Linked DNA regions of Homo sapiens. The protein of the gene in region 3 interacts with the protein of the main gene of each other region in a pairwise test. Each region holds a gene or a part of one and is shown on either strand. Other genes may lie near its edges.

Region 1 (3,734 bases), about 50 Mb from region 3:
AAACACCCCTACAAGGCCGCATGTCCACATCTGTGGAAGGTTGCAGACTAAAAGCTTCCCATGTCAGCGCTGAGCAGACTTCTAAGTTAGCTGTGTATCACCACTCTGAGTCCCTTAAGAGAGCTGTTGTGAATCACCACAGCAGGGGTGAGACCCCATTCTGCCTGTGTTCCTGACTAACATTCACAGAAACACTCCGCGGGTACATGCAGTGCACCAAACATAGGTGATTCATTCAAAAGAAATCTGCCAAAACAGAAAGACAAGTAGAGCTAGGTTTAACGGTGTGCTCCCTGAAAACTTCTGGAACACATCTCTGAAATGTTCTCAGGTGCCAGGCAGCTTCTAAGAAGGCAGAGTAACCTCATCTCCTGTCTCCTATTACTCTTGCCTTTCATCAGGGGGTGTTCAAGAGGAGGCAGCAGGCAGCAGCAGCCTTTAAAAAATTTGTCAATAAAAGACAGCAGCTGGTCAACTGGAACAGTGCAGCTGAACTCCCAGCATCTGACACGGAATACCCTTCGCCTACAGCTGCCACCTCCCAGGCCAGGCCTCCAGCCCACCCTCCATACTGATGCTAGCTCTGGTCACTGCCACTCCCCTACGGAATCCCCTGCAGTGCCCTGCTGGCCCAGGACCAGGCCAGACCCTGACTCATGGACACACCCTCCCCCATCTGGCATTCGTTTTGGCAGAGCTATCTGGAAGAGCCTTTACTACCCTGTGTCCATGTGGCAAGCCCCATTTATCCTTTACTATCCTCAGCTATCATGACTGCAAAAGCTTTCCACCTCAGCCCTGCAAGATGGTCTCCACCAGCTTCGATGCAAATTCCCTATCTTGTACATTCATTCATTTAATAAGTATTACGCACCTAATAGATGTCAGGCATTGGGCCCAAGGAAACAGGAAGAGCGATACTGACAAGATCCATATGCCACACTATGCTTATCACACTGAACTGTAATGATTTCTGGGCTATCTTTAAGACCAAAGTCACATTCTACTTATTTCAGTATCGGTAGCACTTAGCCCAATGCCTGGCACATAGTAGGTACCCAATGGGCATTTTTGTGATTGTAAAAAAGAAGGTTCCAACAAGCTGCTAATTAGCTTTTACAAGTAACTTAATAATGACAAAAATAGCAGGCACTAACATTTATTGAGCATTTACTATATTATCAGGTACTGTCCTGACCCAATTACATGTATTATTTAATTTCCAGAACATCCTATGAACAAGATGTTACATAGCCCCCACTTTACAGAGAAGAAATCTGAGGTTCTGACAGGCCAAACATCTAAGAACGGGTACATGTGGGCTATAAAGCGCTCCACAGTGCTGGGAATGCCTACGCATCTGCTGTTCAATACAGTAGCCAGTGGCCACACGTGGCTGTTCAGTGTTTGAGACGTGGCTGGTGCAACCGAGAAAAGGAATTTTGAATTGTTTATTCTATTTTATTTTATTTTAGAGACGGAGTCTTACTCTTTCACCTAGGCTGGAGTGCAGTGGTGCAATCTCAGCTTACTGCAACCTCCGCCTCCCGGGTTCAAGTGATTCTCCTGCCTCAGCCTCCCGAGTAGCTGGGATTACAGGTGTGTGACACCACACCCAGCTAATTTTTGTATTTTTAGTAGAGATGGGGTTTCACCATGTTAGCCAGGATGGTCTCGATCTCCTGACCTCGTGATCCACCCGCCTCGGCCTCCCAAAGTGCTGGGATTACAGGTGTGAGCCACGGCGCCCGGCCCCCACAATTACTTTCCTGTGGTCTCAGCTATAAAATTACCAACATGGATGTGTTCCATAGCACTTCTTGGGACCTACCTGTATGCCAAGAACCACACTGGACACTGCAGGAACTATCAAAGAAAGCCATCACAGAGCTCCTGGAGAAGAGGGGAGCCCAAGAAGCGGTCCTAGCTTCAAAGGCAGAAAAGACATTTCTGTGTGCACTATCAACATAAGCAAGAAAAGAGGGTCTGAGCATAAAGTGACCACAGGTTAGAGGAACTCCAGGTCACTGGGACAATATGATGCAGTTTATGGAAGGCCACTTTTAGCCACTTTTTTTTTTTTTTTTTGAAACAGGATCTCGCTTGTGCAGTGGCGTGACCTCGGTTCATTAAAGCCTCGACCTCCCAGGCTCAAGCAACCCTCCCACCTCAGCCACCCAAGTAGTTGAGACTACAGGCATGCACCGCCACACCTGGCTAATTTTTGTATTTTTTGTAGAGATGGGGTTTTGCCATGTTGCTTAGGCTGACCTTAAACTCCTGGGCTCAAGCTATCTGCCTGCCTTGGCCTCCCAGAGTGCTGGGATTACAGGTGTGAGCCATGGCACCAGGCCCAAGCTAACTTTCAAGAATGTAGCTACTGCATTAAGTAGAGGGATCCTGCAGAAGGAAATAAATCCATTTACTTAACTAGCAGTCACTACATGATCTGAATCATGTAGCACAGTATATGAAAAGTAGAGACTCCATGAATATACCAAACAATAGCGACTTGTACTCTTTAAGTGGATAAATTGTATGGTATATGAATTATAGTATTTTTGAAAAAGCTAGTGAAAATTAGTAACAAAATATTCAGCCAATCCGAAATCCACTTTTTTCTTCTTTCCACCCCCCTACCCCCGGCATCACCAGTCAGCATCTGTTAACAATCTGAAATCTTTTTATTCTTTTTTTTGTTTGACACAGAGTCTCACTCTTTCGCCCAAGCTGGAGCGCAGTAGTGCAATCGTGGCTCACTGCAGACGTGACCTCCTGGGCTCAAGCAATCCTCCCACGTCAGCCACACAAGTGGCTGGACTACAGGCATAAGCCATCACACCTAGCCATCAACATAAAGCCTTTTTTTTTTTTTTTTTTTTTGAGACAGAGTTTCATTCTGTCACCCAGGCTGGAGTGCAATGGCACGATCTTGGCTTACTGCAACCTCCACCTCCCGGGTTCAAGCAATTCTCCTGCCTCAGTCTCCTGAGTAGTCGGGATTACAGGCATGAGCAATCACTCTAATTTTTGTATTTTTGGTAGAGACAGGGTTTTACCATGTTGGCCAGGCTGGTCTCGAACTCCTGACCTCAGGTGATCCTCCTGCCTTGGCCTCCCAAAGTGCTGGGATCACAGGTGTGAGCCCCCGCACCCGGCCTAACAATCTAAAATCTTAATGAGAAAAGAAGTACTCAGAAAAACCCCTCGAATCTTCTGTGGAATGATTGCAAACACATATCTTAGAACTGATGAAATAAAGGCTGAGGAGTGAAAGGCAGGCCTACTTGGGAGCTACCCATAGTGATTTCAATACTGAATTACAATATTCAATAATTGAATTACATACAGAACTACACTGTGAGGTAGGTTCACATATAGTGTAGTTCAGGCCCAGAGACCGATGGCTGAAATAATAATATGTTGAAAACATACCTCTTCTAGGCTGAGTTGCAAATACTCAAAGATCCTATATGGATTTCTTCTGCATATTAACCTGTTTCTTTGCACCAACTAAAGAGAAAGAAATACAATATATACAGAACAAATGGAAGCACTACATGTCATAGAGAATGTATTTTAAAATGAACATTTTTCTTATAAATTCCCAGGATTCACATTCTATTGTGTTAATATTATAAAGAATGATTAAAACACAATTTTTTTGAGACGGACTCTTGCTCTATTGCCCAGGCTGGAGTGCAGTGGTGTGATCATAGCTCACTGAGGCCTCA
Region 2 (3,734 bases), on a different chromosome or scaffold from region 3:
AGGCAACTAGTCAATAATCTTACTGTTTTGCTCTCAAAAGCTAATGCAAAAAGTAAGCACTGATACCTTCCCCACCTATCTCCTTACCTTTCTGTCTGCTTTATGAAGCAATCTATTAAAATCAGAAGGCAAGCAGGTACACCTCACTGCAAACCTAACAACAAACAAACACACAAACAAATTAACACTACTTACCTGGCTGCCTCCATGTTCAGTGTCAATGTATCTTGGCATTGGAAATCTGGAGTGAAGAATTTCCTGTGCATCATCCACTGGGGCTTGCAGAAGGTGGCGGAAATTTTCATACTCAGGCATATCCTGGTATCCTGACTTCCGCCACTGTGCTATGGTCTAATTTTAAAACAATTAAAGAAATTACTTTAAATTTCTTGCCCATCCAAAAATCTTGAGATTTTTCCAAAGAAAATAATCTTTAGAAACTAAAAAAATTATAGACCATTATTCCATTTACCTCAATTTTTTAAAAGTTACAATTTCAGTAGAGAAAATATTCTTAATAAATATAAAATTAGAATATTTCTTCTCCTTTAAAAGTAAAATGAAAGAATACTTACATAAGTCAGAAAATTTTTAAAACACTATGCTTATCAAATGAATGTTAGCTAAAAGCTATCTACCTAAGCTTATGATACGTGAAAGCAATTGAATCAATCCATAGGTAAGTAGCTCTAAACACCATGTAATTAAATCATCTAAAAACTTATGCCTGGTTTATTTTCTAAGTTAGCTGAATCAGTCAACACATTCTTTTATAGCTTTATACCTCTGTATAAAACAATCATGTGCATTTCTGATTTCTCCTTTAACAAGCTACTTGAAAAAGTAAAAATCACCATAAAACAAAGAAAAAGCAAAAAAAAAAAAAAAAAAAAAAAAAGCCCTGTCAGTATTACAGGTTTTTTTTTTTTTTTTAACAAAGGCAAGAAGTTAAAACAGGTATTATTCTTAACAAGTAAAGGGCATTAGAAACTGGTATCAATTAAAAATAATTTACAATAATAATAATTAAATCTTTTAAAACTCCTGGGTAGGTCGGGCGCGATGGCTCACGCCTATAATCCCAGCACTTCGGGAAGCCAACACGGGCGGATCACCCGAGGTCAGGAGTTCGAGACCAGCCTGGCCAACATGGTGAAAACCTGTCTCTACTAAAATGCAAAAATTAACTGGGCGTGGTGGCATGTGCCTGTAATCCCAGCTACCCAGAAGGCTGAGACAGGAGAATCGCTGGAACCCGGGAGGCAGAGGCTGCAGTGAGCCAAGATAGCGCCACTGCACTCCAGCCTGGGTGAAAGAGCAAGACTGAGTCTCAAAAAAAAAAAAAAAAAAGTCCTGGGTAGTACTACTTCAAAGAATATTTTGAGTAATGTCTTTACTATTACAGTACAAATCTTTTCTAAAAATTTTTTTGTAGAGACAGGGTCTCACTATGATGCCCAGGTTAGTCCTGAACTCCTGGGCTCAAGTAATCCTCCTGCCTTGGCCTCCCAAAGTGCTGGAATTAGAGGCGTGAGCCACCACACCCAGTCACAGTGCAAATCTAAAATCATTTACAATTAAAGCAACTGAAAAAATAAATCTGCAGAACTTAGTAAAACACTAGACTGTAAGTTTGAGAACAGATCTGTGAAAAAAGAACACATCTATATCTTCCAAAGCATCCAGAGGAAGCACTTAACAATTGGCTGAATGAGTAACTGCAGGAATGCATCAAGGTCTGCTAAATACCTGGATTAAAGCTTAATAGCTACTAAAATCTTCTGCTCTCTGTAATCATTTACCATTCCAATGAAGTTACAAATTTTAATTCATGTATGCTTTAAATGAGTTTTCAAGATCATGTAGAACACTTAATAATAACTTATAATGATTGCATAACGTAAAAGGAAAGCCTGCCCACTGACAAAGGCTGACTTTTCCCCCCTTAATGTTTTCAGGTAAAACCCAAAAGTGCCATTTGTCTATGTACAGTCAGTGTTCTTACTTTCACAACACTGTGCTTTGCGCAAAATCCAATTGTGTGACAAATGAATAAAATAATCACATGTGGGTCAACTGCAATTGAAGCCTAAAACCTTATAGTAGGCAGCATCATATTTTATTATTTTATAAAAATGGAAATCAAAGTTTATCATAGATGAAACACTAGCCATACAATTAGAAGTAAGAAAACCTTTCTAAGTAAAAAGACTTTACATGCATAGCTTTAAATGCTATTGAAATCTTACCTCACCATGATAAATCAAAATCTGGAAGAATGTGTCCATGAGAAGAATACGATCTGCAAGAATGCTACTGCTATCAAGAAGAACCGGCTAACGTAAAGAAAACAATGAGAAATGAGGAAAAAGGAAAAATAATCTACTCAATAATATAAAATAGATGTTTCCAGGTTATTTTCCAAGTTTCTTTTATTTATTTATTTATTTATTTTTTTGGAGAAGGGTCTTGCTCTGTCACCTAGGCTGGTGTGCAGTGGCATGATCTCAGCTCACTGCAGCCTCAAACTCCCAGGCTTCAGCAATCCTCCCAACTCAGACCCCCAAGTAGCTGGGACTACAGGTGTGTAACACCATGTCCAGCTAGTTTTTTCATTTTTTTGTTTGTAGAGATGGGGTCTCACTATGCTTCCTAGGCTGGTCTCAAATTCCTGGGCTGAAGTGATCCTCCTGCCTTAGCCTCCCAAAGGCTGAGATTACAGGCTCAGCACTAAATTTGAAACTTAGGCCATGATGGCCTAAATTTGAAATTTATATTTTATTACCTAAAATCTCTTGCTATTATGAATTCTTATAGTGTATTTTAATTTTTTAAGGAATCCCTTTAAGCTGAGGTAACAAACAATTTAAAAATAGAGTAAAGTCAAGAAGAATTCAAGGATAACTCCTAAGCCTAAATGGGGAAAGGCCTGGGATAGAGCAAATTTGGAGCACATGGGAAAATAGTTCTGCATATGAAATGAAAGGGAGTGGTCTGAACTGATGACATAAATCTAGGTGTCACATGCACAAAGATTAAAGCACAAAGATTAAAGCAATGGGATTAGACTACATCACTGAGAGGGAAGACAGGGAAAGCCAGAAGATTGATCCCTTAAGCATGTCAACACTTAGAGGTCTGAAAGGGAAAAGCTAGCAAAAGACTGAGAAAGAACGGTGAGTGAGTAAGAGGAAAACCAGGAAGGTATAGGTGTCACAGAAGCCTAGGGCAAAAGGTTTTCAAGGGCTGAGTACTAGTGAAGACTAGGTAAATACTGTTGAGAGCTCTGGTGAGATGTAGGACATTGGTGGTCTTTATAAGAGCCATTTCAATATAATGTTAGGGACAAAAGTCTTACTTATATAGGTTGAGAAGACAATGTGAGGTGAGAAAGTATAAACAACAAATAACTTTTTTGAGTTCAACTCTCACCAGGAGCAGAGAAATGGGGTGGCAGTTAGAGAAAGCGTGGGTCATGGTGGGGGTGTTTTGGCCGTTTGTTATAAACCTGACTGTTGTTATGGTTTCTATGTTAATTAATAAGAATGATCCAGATGGACAGAAAGTAATTATATAGAACAGAAAGAAGATAACTCCAAAAGCAAAACCCTAAGAACATGAAGCTGATAGGATTCATGGATTAAATGAAAAGGTTGAAATTTAATAGGAGCAGGCACTAGGGACAGTGGGATTCCAATTTTCTTCTAAACACCATTCTACATTTTTCAGATGTC
Region 3 (3,500 bases):
GGAGGAGGGGATTAGGGTTGTTGGTCTTCATTTTAAGGGCATTGGAAAGCCATTGAAAGTTTTAAGCTGGGACACGGCACAAACCAGTTCACATTCTTTGGCTTTAATGTGGAAAAGAGACTGATGAAGGGAGCCAAGAAAATAGGCAGGGAGGCCAGTTGAGAGGTGCTTGTACGAGACCGGGTGAGTGTGATGGCAGTGGGGACACTAAGGGGTTAAGCCTTTGTTGTCAGTGCTAATAAACATAAGGGGTGACTTGAAAACATTCAATCAACAATGAAGCTATATTCTCCTCTACATCTATGCACATTAGTATCCCACAAACCCGAAATGGGCCTCAGTTATAAGCTCTCAGCCCCAGATTCTTTTTTCCTAAAGCCCTTCCACAGCTGCCATCTGCCACTGTTTTTGTGACTGTTTGGTAAATATCTGATCTCCAGCTAGACTATAAGTTCCAGGGAGGCAGGGTAGTCGTTGTTTGTTTCTATTACTGCTTCTTAGTGCCTGAGACAGTGCCTGGCATGTAGCTGGTGCTCAGTAAATATTTGTGGAATGAGTGAATGAACTATAAGAGCAAAGCAGACTCCTCTAGCAGGAAAAATATGGAGCGAGACTATGTCTGGATTGGGGCGAGAAGGTCAACGGGAAACCAGCACACGGTATATTGGTCTCTTAAAACAAGAGACTTAGGCTAGATTTTCCATGGGGCCTGATAACAAGGGGTAAGAAATAAAGATGTTGGCACTTGGGTCCCAGCTGGTGTAACTGGTTGAGTGATGTATTAGTCTGTTCTCACGCAGCTAATAAAGACATACCCAAGACTGGGTAATTTGTGAAGGAAAGAGATTTAATGGATTCACAGTTCCACATGGCTGGGGAGGCCTCACAATCATGGTGGAAGTCAAGGGAGGAGCAAAGGCACGTCTTATGTGGCATGGCAGCAGGCAAGAGAGCATGTGCATGGGAACTCGCCTTTATAAAACCATCAGATATCTTGAGACTTATTCACTATCAAGAGAACAGCATGGGAAAGACCTGCTCCCATGATTCAATTACCTCTCACTGGGTACCCCCATGACACGTGGGAATTATGGGAGCTACAATTCAAGATGAGATTTGAGTGGGGACAAAGCCAAACCATATCAGGTGAACCCTGAATCCTGGGCATAGCATCTGCTTCACTAGCCCCTTCCTTTGTACATAGTAGCTACTCAATAAATACTTCTGAATTACCAGTGGAAGACAAGTCACCTAACCTCCATCAGTCTCACTCTCCTTCATGGTAAACAATGAAGGAATCCAGCCTTTCTTCTTTGCTGAGGATCAAACTGAGAAGACTTTGAAAAGTGGAGGGATCTATCTGTCCTGTGTTAAGATACAACTGCCAGATCCCAGAAAGAGGAGAGATGAGTGGAATGATAAGAACATGGAGGAAAGAGGCCAAAGACTGGGGAGACAGTAAAGATGAATTGCCCAATGGAGACAAGACAGCCATGAGGAGAGAAGGTGGCAGCAGGAAACTATTTCTACAGGCACATCATCTGTCTTGGCTTCTCAGTCTGACAAAGAGGAAGTGGGGCCTGGGCCAGCCTCACCCTATAATGAATACAAACACTAAGTACTGATGTGCCTGTGTGTCTCTAAAACAACTATTCAAACTCAATTGTGCTGGGAGCTCTGTCTGTATTTTGTATCCGTGTTTGTTTCTGTTTTTGCTTTTTAGTGGCTGCCACAAGAGACTTTAACCCCAAGCCCAGTTCTATCTGGGCACATCCATAAATCCTCCCTGCTTTTCTGCCAACTTCCAGACAGGTCATAATGAGAGATGGAAGATAAACAAATAAATATGGAATTGTGAAGGACAGTCAATTCAGCAACTCGACCTCATCCATCAGTCCTTCCCTCCATCACCAGAGCCAAGCAACCTCAAGGTCATTTTAGAAACATACAAACACATCAGTACTTAGTGACTGTTCACATTACAGATGAGGTTGGCCTAGCTCCCATTTGCTAGCTGATAAGCTGAGAAGCCACAGCAGATTCATTCCTGTTCTGAAAAAGCATATCCTTTCAATATAAATAAGAAAAACATCTAGATGTTGGAGTAAGTAAGGTTTGCAAGAAACACACACCTCGTTGCTATTAATAAATGGGCACATAAATAATGAAAGGGGTAGACATCATGGTTAGGAGGATGGGCCCTGGTATTAGAACACCTGGGTTCAAATCCTGGCTCTGTTGCTTGCTAGCTTTGCCACCTGAGCAAGTTACTTAATCTTCCTGGGCTTTAATTTCCTCACCTTTAAGATGGGAGTTATAACAACCTTCCTTTGTAGGATTTTGGTGATCCCTGAATCCTGATTCAGTGATATTATGCCTGCAAGTTGGTTAGCCTGTTGCCTACTATTCGGCTAAGAATGTAATACAAGTTAGCTGTTATTTTTAAATAGAATATCATGCAGCCATGAAAAAAGATATATATTTTTTCATTACCATCCAAAGATGTCCATGATATATGGTTATAATGGACCAGAGCCTTCCAATGGCAGGGGTGAGGTGGGATTGGAGGATAGGAACATGGCTCTGGATTTAGAATACCATAGGAAATAAGACAGTTTACTGATGAGAGTATGCCATTTGTGTGACCTTTGGAAAGGTAGGAAGGAGACTGAAAACAACTGTGTTAAATAAAAGAAGTGGGTCCTTAATAGTTTGTGGTAATTTCCCACCTTAATATGCAAGCCAAATAGTTATCTTGACATGCATAGATACATTGAAAGTACCTGGAAAGATAGAAACCAAAGTTTAATTTTGGTTATCTAGGATGATGGGATTGCAAGTATTTTTTAACCATGTAAATGCAGAGATTTTTCTACATTGTCTGTTTTATTTTTATAGTGGGCATGTTTTACTTTCACGGTCATTTGAAACACATCTTTTCTACCTGGAAAAATACAAATTTTACCTTCTTTGAGGCAAGGTGCATTTTCATTTCTAAAATAAAATGTATTTTCAAATCTTAAAAATCTTCTTCACCAAAAAGTAAAGGATTCTGGGCAAAGTTTCAGAAGCAGATCTTGGGCCATGACCTTGTGGTAGGTGGTGCTAGATTAGGAGCAAAAGTACTTTCCCTTTTCTTTTCTATGCCCTTTTCCCCTGCTCCATCTTGCACCTCCCTTCCTCCATGCCCAGGGAGTGAATTGATTCTATCAACTTTCAACTCTCTTCTTCTATTTCTATGCAGCATATGGACACCATACCACCATGCTCATTTCTAACCTTAATATATTAATATATTCTAACCTTAATATATTAATAATGGAACTGTCCAGGTATATATATTCTCATTTAGTCTTGAGAGCAATTAGGCAAGGAAGGTCCTATTAAAGATGAAGCAACTAAGGCTCAGACATAGCTGAGGTCCCAGAGTCAGTGTGTAACAGGACTAGAACTCAACCCACCTCTGTCGGACACAATTTTTATTTTTAATTTATTTAGAG

Evidence for each region.
Region 1: the proteins of CADPS (region 3) and TSEN2 interact in a two-hybrid assay, tested with the Homo sapiens proteins (one large-scale study listed by BioGRID).
Region 2: the proteins of CADPS (region 3) and SEC23A interact in a two-hybrid assay, tested with the Homo sapiens proteins (one large-scale study listed by BioGRID).

What each region holds. Positions count from the first base shown.
Region 1 is NC_000003.12:12,504,933-12,508,666, reverse strand, and holds part of TSEN2 (tRNA-splicing endonuclease subunit Sen2), read right to left. Parts: intron 3,514-3,734; coding exon 3,436-3,513; intron 1,960-3,435; exon of another isoform or gene 1,832-1,959; intron 1-1,831.
Region 2 is NC_000014.9:39,040,537-39,044,270, forward strand, and holds part of SEC23A (protein transport protein Sec23A), read right to left. Parts: intron 2,337-3,734; coding exon 2,250-2,336; intron 352-2,249; coding exon 196-351; intron 1-195.
Region 3 is NC_000003.12:62,756,917-62,760,416, forward strand, and holds part of CADPS (calcium-dependent secretion activator 1), read right to left. Parts: intron 1-3,500.